5 separate regions of the Homo sapiens genome follow, and regions 1, 2, 4 and 5 are each reported to be linked to region 3. Evidence: microRNA targets listed by miRTarBase, many of them from high-throughput screens and not tested one by one. Region 3 holds a microRNA gene; each other region holds the end of a gene's coding sequence.
What was found. Region 3 holds the annotated microRNA hsa-miR-6089 (GGAGGCCGGGGUGGGGCGGGGCGG, at 1,451-1,474, shown strand). A microRNA usually pairs through its seed, bases 2 to 8, with sites in the 3' UTR of a target mRNA and lowers its output. Matches are read on the target gene's strand: a 7mer-m8 pairs with bases 2 to 8, a 7mer-A1 pairs with bases 2 to 7 and ends in A, and an 8mer does both.

Region 1 (4,116 bases), not on the chromosome of region 3:
TCTTTCATTATGGAGTCAAGAAATCATCACTAGTACAGATACTATTCAGAAATAAATGGTATACCTTCTTTTATGACTTGAACTCATGAAAGAATGGTAAAAGTATGTTTGATTTTACTTTATATGAAAGTACTCAAGCTATTACAACCATATCCATTGTGTCTTATACACAATGGAAAATATAGTATTTTCTATAATTGAATCCAGAGGTTTCTAAATTGGCAGATAAAATAGTACCTGTATTTAGATATTCTATTTGAAACATGCTTTAATCTTAGGAAAACAGAGGCAGAAAGCACCTAAATTAGGTGCAATCCTGTCTGCTCCTAATTTAGAAAATAAACCAATTTATTGGCTATTCTTTCTCAAGTGATCCACATTGAGAGATGCTAGGTCTTTATCAAGATCAATTTCAAAATTTTTTTTTTTTTTGAGACGGAGTCTTGCTCTCTCGCCCAGGCTGGAGTGCAGTGGCGCGATCTCAGCTCACTGCAACCTCTGCCTCCTGGGTTCAAGTGATTCTCCTGCCTCAGTCTCCCAGGTAGCTGGGACTACAGGCGCCCGCCACCACACCTGGCTAATTTTTTGTATTTTTAGTAGAGATGGGGTTTCACCATGTTAGCCAGGATGGTCTCGATCTCCTGACCTCGTGATCCACCCGCCTCGGCCTCCCGAAGTGCTGGGATTACAGGCGTGAGCCACCGCGCCCAGGCCAATTTCAATTTTTAACAACTGTCACTACAAGAAAGTCAAGAAAATAGAAATTAGTCCTCCCTCTTGTGTGACCTTGGGGAAATTCCTTAAGCATTGTCTTACTTTCCACAGCGCTATCCTCATCATACATATACTGTGAAGATAAAATATCTGTTGAAGATTCTTTGAGCACCTTGGGCCAGAAGAGCTACAGAAAGCCAAGGTATAGTTATTTTCATATCCACGACTTCATTTGCCTTTTCCCTTGTTGTAGCCTCTCTGGAAATTAAGCAAAGATGCCTATCACCTTCTGCTTAATAACCCTTCATGTACTTGAAATTGTTATTCTCCCCAGGTACCTCAAGCACATTTTTTAAAGAGGATTGCCTAAACTCTAAAACAGCAATCAAGGGCTATGAGTCAGCATTTCACCTAGACATAAAATCAAAATGGTTTAAAATAGGTAACATTATCTTTTTGAAATATGTACATACCTCTTTGGAGAAACTTTGAGACAACTGGAGTTTGCAAGTTTATGAATAGTTTATTACATTTCAGTAAGTGTATTGTGAATCAATAAAGCAAAAGTTAAGGACAATGAGCTCATTACCAAGCCAGTTATTGATTCTCTGGTTCCAAAATAGAACAGTACAGGAAGGGTATAGAGAAAATAGGATTTTTCATGATAAAAATTTTAAGCATCTTAGGAACACAGACCTAAAGAAACTATAAGACACAACGGAAATTTCAGCAGCTACTTAGGATGTTTATTTATTTACCTTTTTTTGCCAATTAGAATTAGTTATTTGGTTTTTACTCTTAAAAAAAAAAAGTATTTTCAACTCAAGTCAGAGGAGTTTGCCAAAACTGAATATTACCTCTTACTGACTTAATTATTCTTTCAATTTCTTGTATATCTTCCTCTCTTGCCTTTGAAAAGTTTACCTTACTAGCTGTCTATCTTATATCACTGTCGTAGCTCAGACTGCCCTAACAAAATACCATAGGACTGGGTGGTTTAAACACCAGAAATTTATTTCCTCACAGTTCTGGTGATTAGAAGTTCAAACTCAAGGTGTCAGCATGGTCTGTTTCTGGAGACTACTTTCTTTCTGGCTTATATGTTCCAGGATGGGATGGTTGGAGGAGCCCCATCTCCAGATACCATCACATTAATAAGGGCTTCAACATATAAATTTTGGGGACGGGAACATCTAGTCCAAAACATTCACTAACAGAAAAATTGACACTGGCTCCATATCATCAAGCAGATAATATGGAAATGAACAAGTCAATTTGTTTTCAAACTATTCTTATGGGAAGCTTCCCTTTTTCTCCCTTTTACAGCAATCTAATTCAATGGAAAAGGAACTTCTTAAACAATTTATGAACTAACACTAATTTCATGAACCAGTTCTTTAAAAAGCGAAGACAAAAAGTGAGACACATGATTTTGGTAAAAACTGAAAAATAGACCATTAACCCATTTATATAGTATGTTTAATAAAAACAACTTTTAAACCCTTATACTTTGTTCTTATATCAAGTAAAGATTCTTAAAGTAATGTAAAACATTTGAATGTCCCTGGAAAGTAATATAACACACAATAACCCTTCTATATTACATATATATCTATATGTATATGTATATGTTAGAGACTGGGTCTTGCTATTCTGCCCAGGCTGGTCGCAAACTCCTGGGCTCAAGTGATCCTCCCACCTCGGCCTCCCAAAGTGCTGGGATTATAGGCATGAGCCACCACATTTGGCCCTATATTACATTTTCATGCATATTATTAAAAGAAATGGTGACTTACATATGGAAATACAGAAAACTGAAATAGTAAACAAAATTAACAAAGTTATAATTGGGTTGTGCTGAAGTTTACCTAATTTTAATACAAATAGTTATTTTTATTACATGCTACACAAATTTGATGGTATAAGAAATGTGTTTTTCTTGTTTGCATGAATTTCTTCATTGCAAAATACTTAAAATGTACATAATTTTTAAAAAACAACTAAGAGGCCGGGCACGGTGGCTCATGCCTGTAGTCCCAGCACTTTGGGAGGCCGAGGTGGGCGGATCACGAGGTCAGGAGATCGAGACCATCCTGGCCAGCACGGTGAAACCCCATCTCTACTAAAAATACAAAAAAATTAGCTGGGCATGGTGGCATGCGCCTGTAATCCCAGCTACTTGGGAGGCTGAGGCAGGAGAATCGCTTGAATCCAGGAGGTGGAGGTTGCAGTGAGCCGAGATTGCGCCACTGCACTCCAGTCTGGCGACAGAGCAAGACTCCATCTCAAAAAAAAAACAAAAACAAAAAAACAATTAAGAACATTTCCTTAATGACTATGAAGTGAATAGACAGCATATTTCAAATTTTCAAGTAGAAGGGTAGAGGAATGTAGGACAAAAGGTGACTGAGATCCAGAGTTTAGGTGACTTGGCAAAGTCATCCAATTAGCAGGTGCAGAGTTATATATGAAACCCAAGATTTTCCTGTCTAAAAATGCTGAAGATTAGTATATTCAAGATTAAGGGGAAGAAAATCTAATTATACTTTAGATCATTTCATACCAGAAAACAGCTATAGAAACTAGTTTTTCATTTTCAAAACTCAATTAAGTGTGTGAATGGTCCGTTGGTGTCCAGCTTTAACACCTGCCTGTTCCCATAAGTGCCATGTTCCACTACAACCCTAGCTTCAGCACACTTGCTATTAGCAGCTACTTCTTTTTCACATAGAGTCACAAATTGAGAGTAAAGTTCAAACCCTTCTTCTTTTCCAGAGTTAGAGTGATATTGCATGTTTCTTCCTTTTAGTCTTCCTCCAAGGGTAGCTTGAGGGATAATAAGAATGTTGCCAGGTAGATCCAATATAGAGACATGCTTGCCATTTTCTGTCTCACTTAATTTCACATTTAACAGTGTATTAACTGGGTGAGGAAGAAAGGCAAAACATTTTAAAGTGAAAAACAAACATGAAGAAAACCATCAAGTTTTTAGTCAGCAAATCTCATGTTTAAAATTCAGTTTGTCAGCTCATGCCTCTAACCCAAAGTCTCTATTTAGATTTAAAATACTGCTTCACTAAGCTAAATAATCTAAGCATGAAAAATAAGGCAATTTTCATGCAGAAAATGGCATGATATTTTAAATCTGAATTGGCAGTTAAGATAACCTAACAATAAGTTCATCCAGAAAGGTCTAAAGAATTAACTGTACACTGGAACCTCAAATATTGTTCCCCTGGGGGAATACATGAGAAGATTTTACCTTCCTGTTCTTTTTATTTAGTAAGTAAATCCCACTGGAAAAATATGAGGATAACTCCTCCTCACACCAAATTCTGCTTGCTTGCTTGCTTGCTTTATTTATTTATGTATTTATTTAGAGACAGAGTCTCACTCTGTCGC
Region 2 (4,100 bases), not on the chromosome of region 3:
CAAGAACCCCAGTCCTTGATTGAAATTTTCCCACTTCTTAAAGAGTTGCCCCAAATCTGTTGGTACTTAAAATTTCATCTCTTCAAAATGGAAGTGGTTAGTTGTTTGAGGCCAGAGGGTATGCTGTTGAGTTGTATGAGGGGAATTCAGATATAAAATCTTAGGAAGGGAGACAGAATGGGAAGGAGGAAGGGGAAAAAAAGGATAAGGAAGGGGACAGAAGAGAAAAAACTCTAAAGCAAAAACAGTTTTCATTAAATGATGTAAGTAACAGCAGTAACTGTTAAACAAGATATTGGAACACACTTGTTATTCATCGTCCTCTCCTGTCTCTAATAACATATGCTGAATAAGTGACTTTTTCTTCCTTTTATTTTACAGAGGTCAGAGGTCAACTCCGCTCACCCATGATGGACAGCCAAAAGAAATGCCGCAGGCTCCTGTACTTATTTCCTGCGCTGACCAGTGAAGCGCCCTTTCATTGTAAAACATTGTGCTTTACCTACTACCCTAGCCTTGTCTTTACCGAGGGATGCTAGTGAGTCCAAGTGGTGGAAAATATAGACTGCAAACAAGTGCTTGTTGCCCCACACGGCCCAGATTCACTTGAAGCAGAAGTTAGCATCCTGGGCCAGTTTGTTCTCTCAGAACCCAGAATCTTTGAGGGTAAGGTTATCTGTCTGATACTGAGCAGAAACAGAATGATCCTGGAGCTTTGCTTTCTATTGAAGGCTTTTGACGGTAATAGGTGGTAACTTGGTAAAAGGCTGCCTTTACTGTAGCTCACCCAGCATCTCTTTTACCAACCAGAGAGTGTGAAACTAGTTTCATATATTACCTAGTTATTCTTTCAAAACAAAACAAAAAAAAAACAAAAACTGACGCACTGCACTAGTTATTATTAGATATTCTTAGTCTTTTTTGTACATGGAGATTTAAGTTTAAGATGGTTTATATAATAGGTTATACCTACATTTATATTGTAGAATAAATATTAAAAAGCCTGTTCCAGAGACTCCCAAGCAGCCTGGGCAGGCAGATGTACCATTGTTAGTGGTGTATGCTCGGCCTCGTGGTCCATATATTCTGCACTTTTATATTTGCCACCAGAATGGTAGTTTGCTGGCAAAAAAAAAAAAAAAAGAGAGAGAGAAAAAATTACAACTCTTACAATCTGAATTTTTTTCTTAGCCTTGAGTGACCAAGAAGAATTTGCTTGAGGCAAATTGTGGCAAATATTTTCCCAGACAGGGGAAGAGTCCTGCAGATTACAGATTACTGGTGTTTTCATGCCTTGAGGATTCTTTTATTTTTACATAGGGGTCTAAGTGACCAATGGATTGTTCATACAAACAAAAAAAAAGACAAAAATATTATTCAGAAGTGACCTTAGTATTACTTCACTATTCTAAACACATTGAAGACACTCACTTCATGTGGACTTGGAGCTACAGACCTTTTACATCCATCACAGATTGGCTGGACGGGTTGCAATTGCTATGCACAGCCTGATTGGCACTGCAGGTTTTTAGAGCCATTTTGAGTTTGTGTTGTTTAGGAGGTACTGAGTCAATGATGAGGGAGGTATGCCTGACCAGAGTGGGACTCTCAGTCATAGATCCACCTGCAAGTCTCTGTTTCCTTTTTGTGTTTTGTTGCTTTTGAACATAAAACCAACCATACATAAGCAGCGCCAAGTGGATTAACTGGCTTAGAACATTCAACATATTGACTTAACCACCTGACATTCACAGTGTCTTGTTTCCTAGCAACAGATGCAAAGTGATAAATCAAAATTAGTCTGAGGCTACAGATTTTACAGGGTATTTGTTCTATAGCACAAAGTATTTCCCCACTCTTGCGTCACAGCACAAACTACCAAATTTTAATTATTGGATTCCAGCAATAATTTTTAATGGTTTTCAAACTGGCGGAATTTTGACAGTGCTAGTTCGAGTTTGAAGCTTTTGAATTAGATCTCTAAATGGTGACAGTTTACATGGTTTTATCTAGCTTTCTTATTTATACTTGACTGAATTGTAATGATTTTTTTTCTAATTGTAATTTGACGTAATAGCCATACAAAAAATGACTCTATTCATACTAGGTTTAGCTTCTCATGGTTGTAGATATTACTTCAGTTCCGGTGCTGGAAAATATGTACAACATACTAACAGGATTGAAAAAAAAATAGAGGTTTTTCTTCTTGTTTTTTTTTCCAAAGCAGGTAAAGAGGGTAGCAAAGCATCGGAATGATGTGCTCAAAAATGCATATTCCTGGTGGGGATGGAGGAAGAAGGCATTAGTAAAAGGTTAATCAAACGTTACAACTTAACCCCATTCATGTAGGAATAAATCAAGTGAGCAGTTCCAGACTTTTGCATAATATTTTTACTATGATGCTGTTTTATTAATATTTTCTAAATTTCAAAACAAAAAGTGAATGTTTGAAATTGCTGGGTCCCGATGTTGGTGGCTGTTGGAGTTTTGGACCACTCGCTAGCAGTGATTTGAAGATTATAATTAGCTAAAATCCAAAACAAAAAACCAACAACAAAAATTGTATGGTGCGGAACATGCACCTTGACAATGGTACTAACTTGTTATTCTATAGAACACGTTAGAATAGATCTATTTTTGCCAGAGCACCCTCCTTCAGTCCTCCGATTACATTTCACTAGAGTTCCTTACGAGATTGCTGTATATTCCTGGGACCTTTTTTAAAAAAAAAAAAAGCAAAACAAAAGATTACTTTTTTTCTATGTGATTAATATCTTACTTGATCTGCTTTTCCTAAACCTCAGTGGCTTTTCCCTTAGGCAGGGTTGGGGGTGGGAGGGCAACTTACTGGAGATGACTGTTTTCAGATACTTTAAAACAAACCTTTTTGTAGAAATGCTTAATTTTTAAGCGGTTAGGCACTGAGAGTAGCAGAAATCCTGCAAAGCTTTATAGTTCCTTAGACTCACCTTGTCGATTCTCTGAGTAAAGTCTTGATTTCAATAATTGTGCTTCTCATGCCCTGAAACTGCTGGAGAGGAGTGTTGTTATTTTCAGGTAACAACATTCGTTAGCACAAATATTTCAGACCAATATTAGTGCTCTCCACCCCACCTTTTGTTATCATTTTCATTTCATTTCTCTCATTCTTTTTTATTTTGGAAAATCATATTGCTATAGTGTGTACTTTAATCTGCCAGCAGATACCATCTACACTAACATTTGTCCCACAGCATCCTCAAGAGAAAAAGTTGTTGCACCTTATATATATCTCAAGCAAACCAAAATATGATGCTCTTCTGCTTTGTTTTATTCTAAATTGTTGTATCATATCTTTCTGAAACCATTCTGAATTTAGTTGAAATTATCAATATTTATGCTTTTAACCTTAATTTCTGGATTCAAGCCTGTATATAAATCTTTTGAAAAAAAATTGTCCTAGCCCTTCTCTGCGATGCTGGAAGTAGAAGATTGCGTCTCAGATGGAGACGCAGTACTGTTCCAGTTTTCTTTAGCCTTTTATTTATTTAGTTATTCTGGGTATTTCCTATGTAATTTTGAAGTGTGTAGAGTATATTATAGTAACTGAAGCTGCAGCTGTAAGAAGCTGAGTGAAAGAAAAAATACTGTAAGACATCCTTAAAGTTTTTATTTGTTTGGGTACTGTATATGAGATCAGGAAAAAGAAAAATGTCCCACAGCCACATTGGAAATACAGGTTCTTGTCCCCAAATTAGGTTAGTTCCCAGATTTTAGATCAAAACTGTTAATTCATTAAAACCCCTTTTAAAAGGTAAATTCTACTGTTGTAATTCCGATAGTCTTTTTCCCACAAATATCAGAAATATATTTATTTAATTCTGTCAGATGAGCTTTCTACCGATGCCATGTCCCAAAGCCATGTTAAAATAATTCCCACGTTATCATTGTGATTCTACTTCCTGCCACTAAAATTGCTGGAGAAACAAAATAATGATGGAACACTATGAACAAAAAGGAGCATCTGAACTGGTCTGGTTATTTAGAATCCAATGTGTTCAAATCCTTTTGTTTTCTTATTAAGTCAGATGCTACTGTAAGTCAGATAAAATTTTGTTTGC
Region 3 (4,116 bases):
CTTTGCTCAACGTGTTCTGCCATGCTTAGAATACAACTTCTGGCCGGGTGCGGTGGCTCATGCCTGTAATCCCAGCACTTTGGGAGGCCGAGGTGGGCGGATCATGAGGTCAGGAGTTCGAGACCAGCCTGGCCAACAAGGTGAAACCCTGTCTTTACTAAAAATACAAAAAGTAGCCTGGCATGGTGGTGCATGCCTGTAATCCCAGGTACTGGGGAGGCTGAGGCAGGAGAATCACTTGAACCCGGGAGGCGGAGGTTGCAGTGAGCCAAGATTGTGCCACTGCACTCCAGCCTGGGCCACAGAGCAAGACTCCATCTCAAAACAAACAAATAAACAAACAAACAACACACAGACAACTTCTATCCTGTAGGAGACTTCCTGCTTCGAACTGGCTGCTGGGACTCCAGCCATCACGTCATTATCCCAGGCAGGTTCAGGATGAAGCAAAGACCAAAAAAAAAAAAAAAAGAAAGAAAAAAGAAAAATGATTCTGCCTCCAGGAGTGGAGTGCATAGTTAGACTGCTGCATTCCTCAAACCCCTGAGGTGGGCCCCAGGGTGCGGGGCCAGCCCCTCTGGCCTTGCCTGTGTCTGATCCAGGGGCACAGGTGGCCTGGGGAGAGACGGAGTCACCCGCAGGCCTGAGACAGCACAAGACCAGTGTTACCGAAGGGCCCCTGACGCAGCCTGCTGGGGTGAGTCGCCAAGGACCAGGACTCAGCCAGGCGACCCAGATAGGGGTCTTACCCCCAACCCCAAACCACGACCACAAGTCCTCACTCCCAACCCTGTCTCTGAGCTTGCGGCAGAACGTCCTTGGTCCCGCGCAGAGCGGGTATCCGCAGTGTGTCTCAAAGCCCCCCACCCCCGCCATCTTTCACCACTGAGCGCCCCCAGCTCGGACGCTCCAGAAAGGACCAGGGGCCGTGGCTGCCTGTCAAGGCCTACGCCTTTCTAAGCAGGGAGGGGATTGCACTTTGCACCCCTTGGGGATCGCCCTGAGCGCCCCGTGAGCAGCTGGAAGGGGGCCCCATAGTTTTCCGAGCAGAGGAGCAGGAAGAGTTTCATTTCCTCCCCGTTGGGGCTGCCTGGGGGGGGTGCCTGTTAGGAACAGAGAGGGGACAGCAAGGGCGGGCGCGGAGAGGCCCACACCTCTCCAAGAAGGGCAGCGGTTTCTCTTGGCTCCAGGTAGGGGCCGCCCTGGGGCGTGCATTTAAGGGGCTGTAGAGAGGGAGGGACCCGCACTTTCCCGAGAATGTTGGGGGTTTCACTTTGCTCTAGTTGGCGGCATCCTGGCGACGGGCTTGTGGGCGGGGGGCACTCACAGTTTCCTGAGAAGGGAAGGAGGGCGTCCCGTGGTCCCCTCGGCGCGGCCCGAGCCACCTCCGCCCGCCCCCTCCTCTGTCCCCTCCCCGGGCCCGGCGTTCCCTCCCCTTCCGTGCGCCAGTGGAGGCCGGGGTGGGGCGGGGCGGGGCAGGCGCAGCCTGGGCTGAGTTTGCAGGGCTGCTCCCCTCACCCAACCCCTTCGAGTCCTCCGCGGGCTCCGCCCCACCCGGCCCGTGGGGGAGGTTCCGTCCCGCCGCCTTCGCCCGCGCGCTGCACTCGCGGACGATCTCTGCTCGCCTTGGGCGCGCCGTGGCGCGCGGGGCCGTGCTGGCGCTGCGGCTCCTCGGCCTGCTCCGCCGTCTGGTGGCCGCCCCGGTGAGCGAGCGGCGGGATCCGGGTGGGAGGACGCGGGGGGTGGCGCGGGCTGGGCCTGGGGATCCGCCTGGGGATGTGGGGTGCAGGGGCGGGGCGCCCCGCGGGGACACCCGGCCCCTCTTCCGTGCCCGGCGGGACGCGCTGTGCCCACGGGGACCCAGGTCCGGAGGAGGCGCCCACTTTCTCCCCAGCGCTCTTCCTGGGGCCAGGTGGGAGCCGTTTCAGAGGAAAAAGCCAGCGTTTCTTTCGTAAACCAAAAAGTATCTGGGACAAGTCCCAATCCTTTTGAGTTGATTCGGCGAAGATCAGGAAGGAGCCCGGGAGACGGGTCTATGCCTTTCTCCAAAGATACTATTGAGAGCTTCGGTATTTAAAGGGGGAAAGCACGCTGGAGGGGAAAGAAGGAGGAAGGCTCATTTTACCGAATTCACCTGTTGCAAAAGAAAAGCAGCAGGTAGAATAGTCAATTATGTATTTGTCTTGCGCTCACTAAATTGGCACTTTACTAAGATAAGGTCAACAGAGAGTTATTGCACTGTCTGCTTGGGAACAGAAGGAAAGACAGCTTCCTGCCTGACTCAGCTTCCAGCTTTATTATTATTATTATTAATTATTTTGGCAGAGTGAACTGGGGTTCCAAGTTTTAATTTTCCTTCTACAGTTTGCAGAATCGCAAACTCTTAAATTTAGGGGAACCTGGGGAAGAGGTGGCATCCGATTCCCCCCCAACCCTGGTGACGTTCTTATGGATCTTATGGATACTGCAGTCTCTCTTCTCTTTCTGTCTCTCCTCTCTTCTCTTTCCTTTCTCTCTCTCCTCTTCTCTCCCTCTTCCTCTCTCTCTCCTCTCCTCTCTCTCTCTTCTCTCCTGTTCCCTCTCTCTCTTCTCTCTCTTCTTTCTCTCGCTTTTCTCTCTCCTCACTCTCCTCTCTCCCTCTCTCTCCCCTCTTTCCTCTTTCTCTCGCCTCTCTCTCACCTCTCTCCTCTCTCCCCTTTTCTCTCTCTCCCCCTCTTCTCTCTCTCCCCCTCTTCTTTCTCTCCTTTTCTCTCTCGTCTCTCTCTCCTCTCCTCTCTCCTCTCTCTCTCCTCTCCTCTCTCTCCTCTTTTCTCTCTCCCATCTCTCTCTCTCCTGTCTCCTTCTCTCTTGTCTCTCGCCTTTCTCCTCTCTCTATCTCCTCACTCTCTCCTTCTCTCTCCTCTCTCTCTTGTCTCTCTCCCGCCTCTCTCATCTATCTCCTCTCTCTCTCCCCCCTCTCCTCCCTCTCCTCTTTCTCTCCTCTATCTCCTCTCTCCCCCTCTTTCTCTCTCCTCTCTCTCTCTTACTCCCTCTTTTTCTGTCTCATGCTCATCTTTTACTGTTTTCACCTGAGGGAAGAGTGATGAGAAGATAGGAATTCACGTTTTCTGAAGTATTTAGAAACGTGGGGCCGTGGTGTTTTCTCCACCTGTTTTTGGGTCATTCCTTCCTCATTTCTCAGAACATTGGTATTAACAGCTCATTTCCCTCCTTTAAGGGCTGACTTTGACTTAGCGATGCCTTTCCTGATGGAGGAAACAGTGAGTAACTTTTTAAAGTCTCCTCTGTTGCTGACTTTGCTGATTGTCATTGAATTATTATCATTTTCAAGACATCTCTTTTGCGTGATAAATGGATTGAGTTTGGACAGTGGGAACATAGGAAGTATATGTGTTGTTTATTTTTGTTGTTGGATTTTTGATATATTTTTTTTTTGTTACCAGCATGCTGGTTTTTTTGTTTTTTTTGTTTTTTTTTTTTTTTGAAGTGTAGGTTCAGAGTCTCACTCTGTGGCCCAGGCTGGAGTGCGGTGGCGCGATCTCGGCTCACCGCAACCTCCGCCTCCTGGGCTTAAGCGATTCTTGTGCCTCAGCCTCCTGAGCATCTGGAATTACAGGCACCCACTACCACGCCCGGCTAATTTTTGTCTTTTTAGTAGGGGCTGGGTTTTGCCATGTGGAGCAGGCTGGTCTCTAACTCCTAAACTCAAGCTATGCACTCACCTTGGCCTCCCAAAGTGCTGGGATTATAGGTGCAAGCCATCACGCCCAGCCAGTATGCTGGCTTTTATTTTAAAATGGTTAGTCTTTGGAACAACGTAAGGCAAATGTGACTCCCTTGGCCAGGTCAGGCCTCGTGGGCATAGATCTGCGCAGTCACACAGGGACCTGTGCACACAAGGGTGCCATGCTGCTTTATTGCTGTGTTGCTGCCATCTTCAGATTCTTCATACAGTTGGAACAATGGGTCGCACATTTTCATTTTCACAGGCCCTCCCAAATTCTGGAGGTGGTCTGCACACCTGGTTTAGTTTTCTTTGAAAATACTTGAAGTTAAATCCTGTACCTGGAAGACAACAGAAGGGAATTGGCAGGAGGCTACGTGTATGGGTATCCC
Region 4 (4,116 bases), not on the chromosome of region 3:
CCAGTCCAGGATGTGGCAGCTGTCCTTGGCCCCTTGCCACCTCCTGGACAGCCCCAAGCTCCACTTGCCCTCTTGTCTGAGTCTCCTCCTCCCCACCCACCCCTGCAGCCCACAGCATCCCCCCACTACCCCCACACCCTCCCTCAGCCCAGTCCCTGGAGAACCTCAAGTTAGGGGCAGACATGGGGCCAGCCAGAGGGAGAGGGTCACCGTGGGGAGGCACCAGAGCTTCCGCAGTGTTGCTGCTGGCCCTTCCAGAGAGCACCTCAGGGGGCAGGATGCTGGGCCTCCAGCGCCTCTATTGCCCCACTCCCAGAGCAGTCCTGGTTAGCGCCCACCTCCTCTGGAGGCCAGCCGGGATCGCCTTCATCAGCTCATCCCAGATGGGCTTGCAGTCAGGAGTGGGGTTGAAGACAGGCTGTGCCTCACCAGCTGGGGACCTCGGACCAGCTACTTCACCTCCCTGTCCCCCAGCTCCCTGCACCCAATAAGACAGACAGACAGGCAGTCGCTGCAGGCTCCGAGTCCCTGGCGGGAATCTGCTCAAGGGGGTCGGATTTGGAGCCCACCCAGCACCTGAAGGCCTCCCTTCCTCTCTCCATGCAGGATGAGAACATCATGAGCTCCATGCAGCTGTTTGAGAATGTCATCTAGGACACGTCCAAAGGAGTGCATGGCCACAGCCACCTCCACCCCCAAGAAACCTCCATCCTGCCAGGAGCAGCCTCCAAGAAACTTTTAAAAAATAGATTTGCAAAAAGTGAACAGATTGCTACACACACACACACACACACACACACACACACACACAGCCATTCATCTGGGCTGGCAGAGGGGACAGAGTTCAGGGAGGGGCTGAGTCTGGCTAGGGGCCGAGTCCAGGAGCCCCAGCCAGCCCTTCCCAGGCCAGCGAGGCGAGGCTGCCTCTGGGTGAGTGGCTGACAGAGCAGGTCTGCAGGCCACCAGCTGCTGGATGTCACCAAGAAGGGGCTCGAGTGCCCCTGCAGGGGAGGGTCCAATCTCCGGTGTGAGCCCACCTCGTCCCGTTCTCCATTCTGCTTTCTTGCCACACAGTGGGCCGGCCCCAGGCTCCCCTGGTCTCCTCCCCGTAGCCACTCTCTGCCCACTACCTATGCTTCTAGAAAGCCCCTCACCTCAGGACCCCAGAGGGACCAGCTGGGGGGCAGGGGGGAGAGGGGGTAATGGAGGCCAAGCCTGCAGCTTTCTGGAAATTCTTCCCTGGGGGTCCCAGGATCCCCTGCTACTCCACTGACCTGGAAGAGCTGGGTACCAGGCCACCCACTGTGGGGCAAGCCTGAGTGGTGAGGGGCCACTGGGCCCCATTCTCCCTCCATGGCAGGAAGGCGGGGGATTTCAAGTTTAGGGATTGGGTCGTGGTGGAGAATCTGAGGGCACTCTCTGCCAGCTCCACAGGGTGGGATGAGCCTCTCCTTGCCCCAGTCCTGGTTCAGTGGGAATGCAGTGGGTGGGGCTGTACACACCCTCCAGCACAGACTGTTCCCTCCAAGGTCCTCTTAGGTCCCGGGAGGAACGTGGTTCAGAGACTGGCAGCCAGGGAGCCCGGGGCAGAGCTCAGAGGAGTCTGGGAAGGGGCGTGTCCCTCCTCTTCCTGTAGTGCCCCTCCCATGGCCCAGCAGCTTGGCTGAGCCCCCTCTCCTGAAGCAGTGTCGCCGTCCCTCTGCCTTGCACAAAAAGCACAAGCATTCCTTAGCAGCTCAGGCGCAGCCCTAGTGGGAGCCCAGCACACTGCTTCTCGGAGGCCAGGCCCTCCTGCTGGCTGAGGCTTGGGCCCAGTAGCCCCAATATGGTGGCCCTGGGGAAGAGGCCTTGGGGGTCTGCTCTGTGCCTGGGATCAGTGGGGCCCCAAAGCCCAGCCCGGCTGACCAACATTCAAAAGCACAAACCCTGGGGACTCTGCTTGGCTGTCCCCTCCATCTGGGGATGGAGAATGCCAGCCCAAAGCTGGAGCCAATGGTGAGGGCTGAGAGGGCTGTGGCTGGGTGGTCAGCAGAAACCCCCAGGAGGAGAGAGATGCTGCTCCCGCCTGATTGGGGCCTCACCCAGAAGGAACCCGGTCCCAGGCCGCATGGCCCCTCCAGGAACATTCCCACATAATACATTCCATCACAGCCAGCCCAGCTCCACTCAGGGCTGGCCCGGGGAGTCCCCGTGTGCCCCAAGAGGCTAGCCCCAGGGTGAGCAGGGCCCTCAGAGGAAAGGCAGTATGGCGGAGGCCATGGGGGCCCCTCGGCATTCACACACAGCCTGGCCTCCCCTGCGGAGCTGCATGGACGCCTGGCTCCAGGCTCCAGGCTGACTGGGGGCCTCTGCCTCCAGGAGGGCATCAGCTTTCCCTGGCTCAGGGATCTTCTCCCTCCCCTCACCCGCTGCCCAGCCCTCCCAGCTGGTGTCACTCTGCCTCTAAGGCCAAGGCCTCAGGAGAGCATCACCACCACACCCCTGCCGGCCTTGGCCTTGGGGCCAGACTGGCTGCACAGCCCAACCAGGAGGGGTCTGCCTCCCACGCTGGGACACAGACCGGCCGCATGTCTGCATGGCAGAAGCGTCTCCCTTGGCCACGGCCTGGGAGGGTGGTTCCTGTTCTCAGCATCCACTAATATTCAGTCCTGTATATTTTAATAAAATAAACTTGACAAAGGAGAGGGATTCCTGTTGGCTTTATCCTAGCTCTGAACTTCAGCTCAGCTCTTCCCACCCCTGCTGCCATTAGCCGTGGATCCTGCCTGGTGCTGTGCTGGTAAATGTTTGACAGCTGGCTCTGGGGGCAGAGAATGCCGCTCAAATTCTCAGGCTCACAGTGTGACCTCACTGAGGCCGAGTGAGGCCGAGATGCACACAGTGGGCCTTTGTGGCCTTCATGGGAAGCGCCAGCCCTGCAGCCTCCGCACAGACCCCACAGGGCAGGAGGACTTCTTCCTGAGGCACCATGTGTATTTCACCCCCAGATAATTTTTCTTTCCCAGTTCCAGGAAGTCATTCTGGGTGTCCCCTTGGCTGGAGAGTGAGGGTCACGGGGCAGAAGAAAGCAATATTTGCCTGAACACATCTCCTGGTGTTTATTTTCAGAAGTATAAGCCCTGTGAGGACAATGCCAGGGAAGGGACAAGAATGAAAGCCTGGGAGGAGGGAGGAGGAGGGTTCCCCAACTCACCAGTTCAGATTGAAGAAATCCAAACACGTTCTAAGCAAGTGAGATAAAAGGGAACTCACCTAAACACGTTACGGTGAATTGCAGAACACCAAAGACAAAGAGATGGCAAAGACAGCCAGAGACAGATTGCCTGCCAGCTCTCCTCAGTGACAGTGATGCGGAAAGACGGGAATGGCATGTCCAGTTTGCCAAGAGAAAAGTAACTACCAACCTGGAATTTTACACCAGGCAAATAAAATATTTTCAATGTGGCATGGTGGCTCACGCCTGTAATCCCAGCACTTTGGGAGGCCGAGGTGGGTGGATCACCTGAGGACGGGAGTTCAAGACCAGCCTGGCCAACATGGTGAAACCCCATCTCCACTAAAAATACAAAAAATTAGCTGGGCATGGTGGCGAGTGCCTGTAATCCCAGCTACTAGGGAGGCTGAAGCAGAAGAATTGCTTGAACCTGGGAGACAGAGGTTGCAGTGAGCCAAGATGGTGCCACTGCACTCCAGTCTGGGGAGGAATAGACTCAAAAAATACATAGTCTCAAAAAATAAATAAATAAATAACTTAGGAGACTTTGCCACCAATAGATAATAGAGAAAAGGGCTTTACTTCATGTGGAAGCAAGGCGATCTCCCAGCTAAAAGTTCCAAGATGCAAGAAGCATGAAGGGTGTAGACAGCAGTAAATATTAAGGGAATCTAAAGAAATGCAATGTTACTTACAAAAATAGTAAAAAAAAATCAGCATAATTTCCAAAAATAGCTAATGCCATATTTCTAGCCTCACTGCTCTCCCAGACCTTATCGCTTCCTCATCAAGAGATGGAGACTAGTTTTCCTGCCCTCAAAACTCAGTAGGACTTCATGTGACTGTCTTGATGAATAGAACATGGCAGAAGTGAGGCTCACTCACTCACATGCGTGATAGCC
Region 5 (4,111 bases), not on the chromosome of region 3:
ATAGGGCGAGTAGAAATAATAGCAGTCTGGTTAAAGGCAATATTTATATGCACAGATGTATAATTATATTGTGTATGTACACATAGGGCAGACATTACACATTAAGAATCAGGGAACTTTACTCTGTAATTTTTAGCTGGAGTTATGACTTCCTGCCACTGACATTAAGGCTGACAGATGAGGCTCTGAAAATGCCACAGATTTAAACGGATGGAACCCGAGGGCTTTAGCTGAGCTGTTCCTTGAGCCCAGCGGGACGGGGTAGTTACAACATGCAGGCCATCACCTACGAAGGCCTCTGCTTCCAGCCGTGGCAGCTGGCCTGAAGCCTTTTGGGGTAGAGCCCAGCTCTGCAGAGGGCGGGGAGTGTGAGGACCCCACCCTTCCTGCCAGCCCCTCCCTCACTTACTGGCAGCACACCTGACCCTCAGCCATACTGTCCCTGCAGGGGCTCGCTGGGACACCCAGACTGGAGTCATCGCTGAAGCGCGGCTGAAAGAGCTGACCCCGGCCATGCCTGTCATCTTCATCAAGGCCATTCCTGTGGACCGCATGGAGACCAAGAACATCTATGAGTGTCCCGTGTACAAAACACGCATCCGCGGCCCCACCTATGTCTGGACCTTTAACTTGAAGACCAAAGAGAAGGCAGCGAAGTGGATCCTGGCAGCCGTGGCGCTGCTCCTACAGGTTTAGCTCGCTCCTGCCTCACAGCCCACACTCCCTGGGGCTGGACCACAACTCAGCCCTTCACCTGTGCACCTGTGACTTATTCTTTACAGGAACTGGTGGTGGTTTTTCGTTCTCTTAAATAATCAGGTGCTTTGTAACCAAGCACATCGGAACCAGAGGGTGGAGGTTGGTGTGGAAGAGGTGGGGCAGATTAAAGCCAGTGGAGCCACTCAGCTGTGCCCATCCATTCTGTGCCTGATGGCCACTGTGAGGCCTGGTTCAGGCTTTGGGGAAAGGCCCCAATTCCCAGCAGCCAGAGGCAAGCATTCCAGGAAGTAAATCCCAAATCCTGACTTCCCGGGGGGGTCAGTGGAGTTTGCTTTTAACAGGAGCAGCATGTGGGGTGAGGGCTTGGCACTCACACCCTCTGGCCTGATGCTTCATGCAAACCACCTGCCAATGAGGGGACAGGGCGTTACCCCATACCAGGAGCTGCCGCCTCCACACAGCGTCTCATCCGCCATTACTCCCTGCTCCCAAAAACAACAGGACCTTTTACAAGTAAGGAAACACACCCAAGCCCCCGCCCCCAGAGTCTAGAAGAACAAGCCGTTCCCACAAGCAAGCCCCGGACCTGTAGGACTCTGTGGCTGGGCTGATGCAGGACACGGCAGTGAGGTGGCCAGGCTAGCTAGGGCAGCAGGGTGCAGGCACGAGGGGAGAGAATTAACTAGCAACCTGGGGGATGAGGGGAGACAGCGGCAAACGTCAGAAAAGACGGATCCCAGGGGGACCAAGACAGGATCAACATTTTTTTTTTTTTTCGAGGGAGAGTGAGAGTTTCACTCTTGTCGCCCAGGCTGGAGTGCAATGACGCAATCTCGGCTCACGTTGCAACCTCCACCTCCTGGGCTCAAGCGATTCTCCTGCCTCAACCTCCCAAGTAGCTGGGGTTACAGGCACCCACCACCACACGCAGCTAATTTTTTTATTTTTAGTAGAGATGGGGTTTCACCATGTTGGCCAGGCTGGTCTCAAACTTCTAACCTCAGGTGATTCACCAACCTCGGCCTCCCAAAGCGCCAGGATTACAGGTGTCAACCACTGTGCCCGGCCCTCAACATTTCTCAGGCTTCAAAGAAAAGCAGGCCGCTGCAGCAGCTCACGCCTCTAATCCCAGGACGGCAATCTTACTTGAGCCCAGGAGTTTAAGACCAGCCTGGGCAACGTGGCAAAACCATCTCTATCAATCAAAAATACAAAAAATTAGCTGGGAATGTTGTATGTGCCTGTGGTCCCAGCTACTCAGGAGGCTGAGGCAGGAGGGTCGCTTGAGCCCATGAGGTCAAGTACGCAGCGAGGCATGATCATGCCACTCACTCCAGCCTGGGTGACAGAGTGAGACCCTGTCTCAAAAGGGGGAAAAAAGGCAAACACACCCATTAGGAATATCGTTCTACGTTCAGCTTGATCATCAAGTTTTGCAAAAACATTTTTCCAAGTTTACTCACCTAAATCATGGGTTAAGAAGCATCTAGAAAGTCCAAATTCTGAGGGTAATGATTCACAACAATCTTAGCGCCCAGTAGGGCTATCGGAGGGAAAAGAAAAATCCTCCCCTCCTGGCGCCCAAGGAATCCAGCCCTTTGTGGCTGCAGAGAAGGGAAGCAGTTTCAGCCTCCCCCAGCCTGGCTGGGCCAATACCTCTGCTGGCCAGGAGGGGTCACTGCAGCCCTTCAGGTGACCAGGGGAGCTAAAGCCACCAGGGGCCACCGGGCAACTCACTTCAGTCCCTGGTAATAACCACAAAATGTGACGTTTTTCCATTTTGCCTTTAGATCCTGAAATAAGAAAGTAATCTAGTCCACACATACATATTGTGGGTAGTTGACAAAATTATCTCTAAACTTTCCAAGAAATGATTCGCACTTAAGCTGCACTCCAGCGACGGGGAACACAGGGACTGGAACACGACAGCCCCGCGCACCTAGAAAGCCGGGAGGACTGCGGCGGCCGCCGCCCGCCGCCCGCTGCTCTCTGTTGCTCCGGCTGCTTTGCAGAGTTAGGGAGGCTTGGTGTGGGGAGCTCCTCAGGGAGAACCTGCCTAGGACAGCCTCGAAGGTCATCAGCAGAGACAGAGGGAGCAGTGTGCGCTGCGGGAACGGCACTGCAGATAGATTGCTTAAGCCTGGCTGTGGCATAATGATATTTACTCTGGTCCCACAGAATCTGGAGGAATGCGAACTCTGTTTACCGAGAGCCTCTCTCCAAACAGAAACCCAGTGCCCCTGCACATTCCTTTGGCTCCTCCAGTCTAATTGTCCCACAGGACACCGTAATAACTAGTTGGAAGGCAAACAGTGTTAACTGATGTGATGTGCTGCTGTCCAGGGCACTGTGGCCAGGCCGCCGCTCCACCTATCCCCAGCCACTCAAACTGCAGGTCTGCCTGGTGCGGAAGCTGCAACTGTCCTTGTCTAAGACCAGGTGAGCCTATGCAACCTTTCAGACCCCATGAAGGGTGACAGTGACTCCTGCCAGCCCTCGGGAGGGAAAGGCGAGAAGCTGCTTCTAGAGAGGCAAAGTGCAGGGACTAAATCTAATCTCACTCCCCGAAAGGACAGGCTGCCATGCCCTGTAGCCCAGGAAGCTTCTCTCTGTGCAAGGGTCAAGCACCTGAAGATGATAAAGAGATCAGGCAGTGAGGTCACAAAAGCAGCTCCTGGAGACACTGGGGGATATGGAGAGCTGGCTTTATAAACACACATGACATGTATTCAAAATCCCCTGCTACTAGGTGACACAAAAATGTTTTAAGTAGATCCAATAAAAATAAAGTTCATTCTTCAAAAAATAAATTGCTAGGGAAAAAACAATCACAAGGTGTAGTCCTTAATTGGACTTCAAGTCAAATAATCGAAAAAATTAATTTTAAGGCAAGTGGAATTGTGAACACCATTTAGGTATTTGATGATACTAAGACATTCTTGGTAATTTTTGTTTCAGGAGTGACACTGGTGCTGTTTTGGTTAAGTACACATTTTGGGGGAAGACAGCAGGATATGCACGTTATTTAGAAATACGGACACGTGTGCACATCAGAAGAAACAAGCCAAGAGTGGCTGCCTGGGGGAAGGGAGGGCAGGAAATGGCCGCAGTATTGTTTTACTCTCTACATTTGCACACACTATTCAAATAAAATGAAAAGTAATTAAAATAACTAGGAAAAGCTGCAGATAAACTACACATTTTTAAACAATGAGACTTAGCAGAGCACTAAGGTGCCAGGCACTAAGGGAGCCCACGCTGCACACATGAGATGCCGGCACTAGCGCATGTGCCGGCCACATGGGTCCTGGCTCATCTTTGACTCCTCACCGTCCCTTCCCCACAAGCCACCATCCAAAGGCCCAGCCATCCAAAGCAACAGAACTACCCA

Region 1: the mRNA of DTD2 is a reported target of hsa-miR-6089. Seed matches in the 3' UTR shown: 7mer-m8 at 2,763-2,769 and 7mer-m8 at 2,719-2,725.
Region 2: the mRNA of BBX is a reported target of hsa-miR-6089. Seed matches in the 3' UTR shown: 7mer-m8 at 1,066-1,072.
Region 4: the mRNA of KCNIP3 is a reported target of hsa-miR-6089. Seed matches in the 3' UTR shown: 7mer-A1 at 2,074-2,080 and 7mer-A1 at 2,453-2,459.
Region 5: the mRNA of DNAH17 is a reported target of hsa-miR-6089. The part of its 3' UTR that is shown has no 7-base or 8-base seed match.

Annotation. Positions count from the first base shown.
Region 1 is chr14:31,444,819-31,448,934 of GRCh38, forward strand. It overlaps DTD2 (D-aminoacyl-tRNA deacylase 2), which reads right to left. Exons shown (of 3, transcript NM_080664.3): 3 at 1,218-3,636. The coding sequence ends at 3,311. It overlaps HEATR5A-DT (HEATR5A divergent transcript), which reads left to right. Exons shown (of 4, transcript NR_110045.1): 3 at 826-916. Among named protein-coding and RNA genes, the nearest start is that of DTD2, 11 kb to the right of the region's middle.
Region 2 is chr3:107,804,989-107,809,088 of GRCh38, forward strand. BBX (BBX high mobility group box domain containing) reads left to right here. Exons shown (of 18, transcript NM_001142568.3): 18 at 382-4,100. The coding sequence ends at 469. Among named protein-coding and RNA genes, the nearest start is that of LINC00635, 71 kb to the right of the region's middle.
Region 3 is chrY:2,607,779-2,611,894 of GRCh38, forward strand. MIR6089 (microRNA 6089) reads left to right here and starts at 1,413; the gene lies at 1,413-1,476. LINC03112 (long intergenic non-protein coding RNA 3112) reads right to left here and starts at 1,462. Exons shown (of 2, transcript XR_001756051.3): 1 at 1,328-1,462. It also overlaps the pseudogene CD99P1. RefSeq lists an enhancer at 760-1,284.
Region 4 is chr2:95,383,396-95,387,511 of GRCh38, forward strand. KCNIP3 (potassium voltage-gated channel interacting protein 3) reads left to right here. Exons shown (of 9, transcript NM_013434.5): 9 at 607-2,682. The coding sequence ends at 654. Among named protein-coding and RNA genes, the nearest start is that of FAHD2A, 17 kb to the right of the region's middle. RefSeq lists an enhancer at 1,972-2,872 and a silencer at 2,306-2,600.
Region 5 is chr17:78,420,491-78,424,601 of GRCh38, reverse strand. It overlaps DNAH17 (dynein axonemal heavy chain 17), which reads left to right. Exons shown (of 81, transcript NM_173628.4): 81 at 449-905. The coding sequence ends at 696. It overlaps PGS1 (phosphatidylglycerophosphate synthase 1), which reads right to left. Exons shown (of 10, transcript NM_024419.5): 10 at 1-541. Among named protein-coding and RNA genes, the nearest start is that of PGS1, 44 kb to the right of the region's middle. RefSeq lists an enhancer at 1,473-2,052.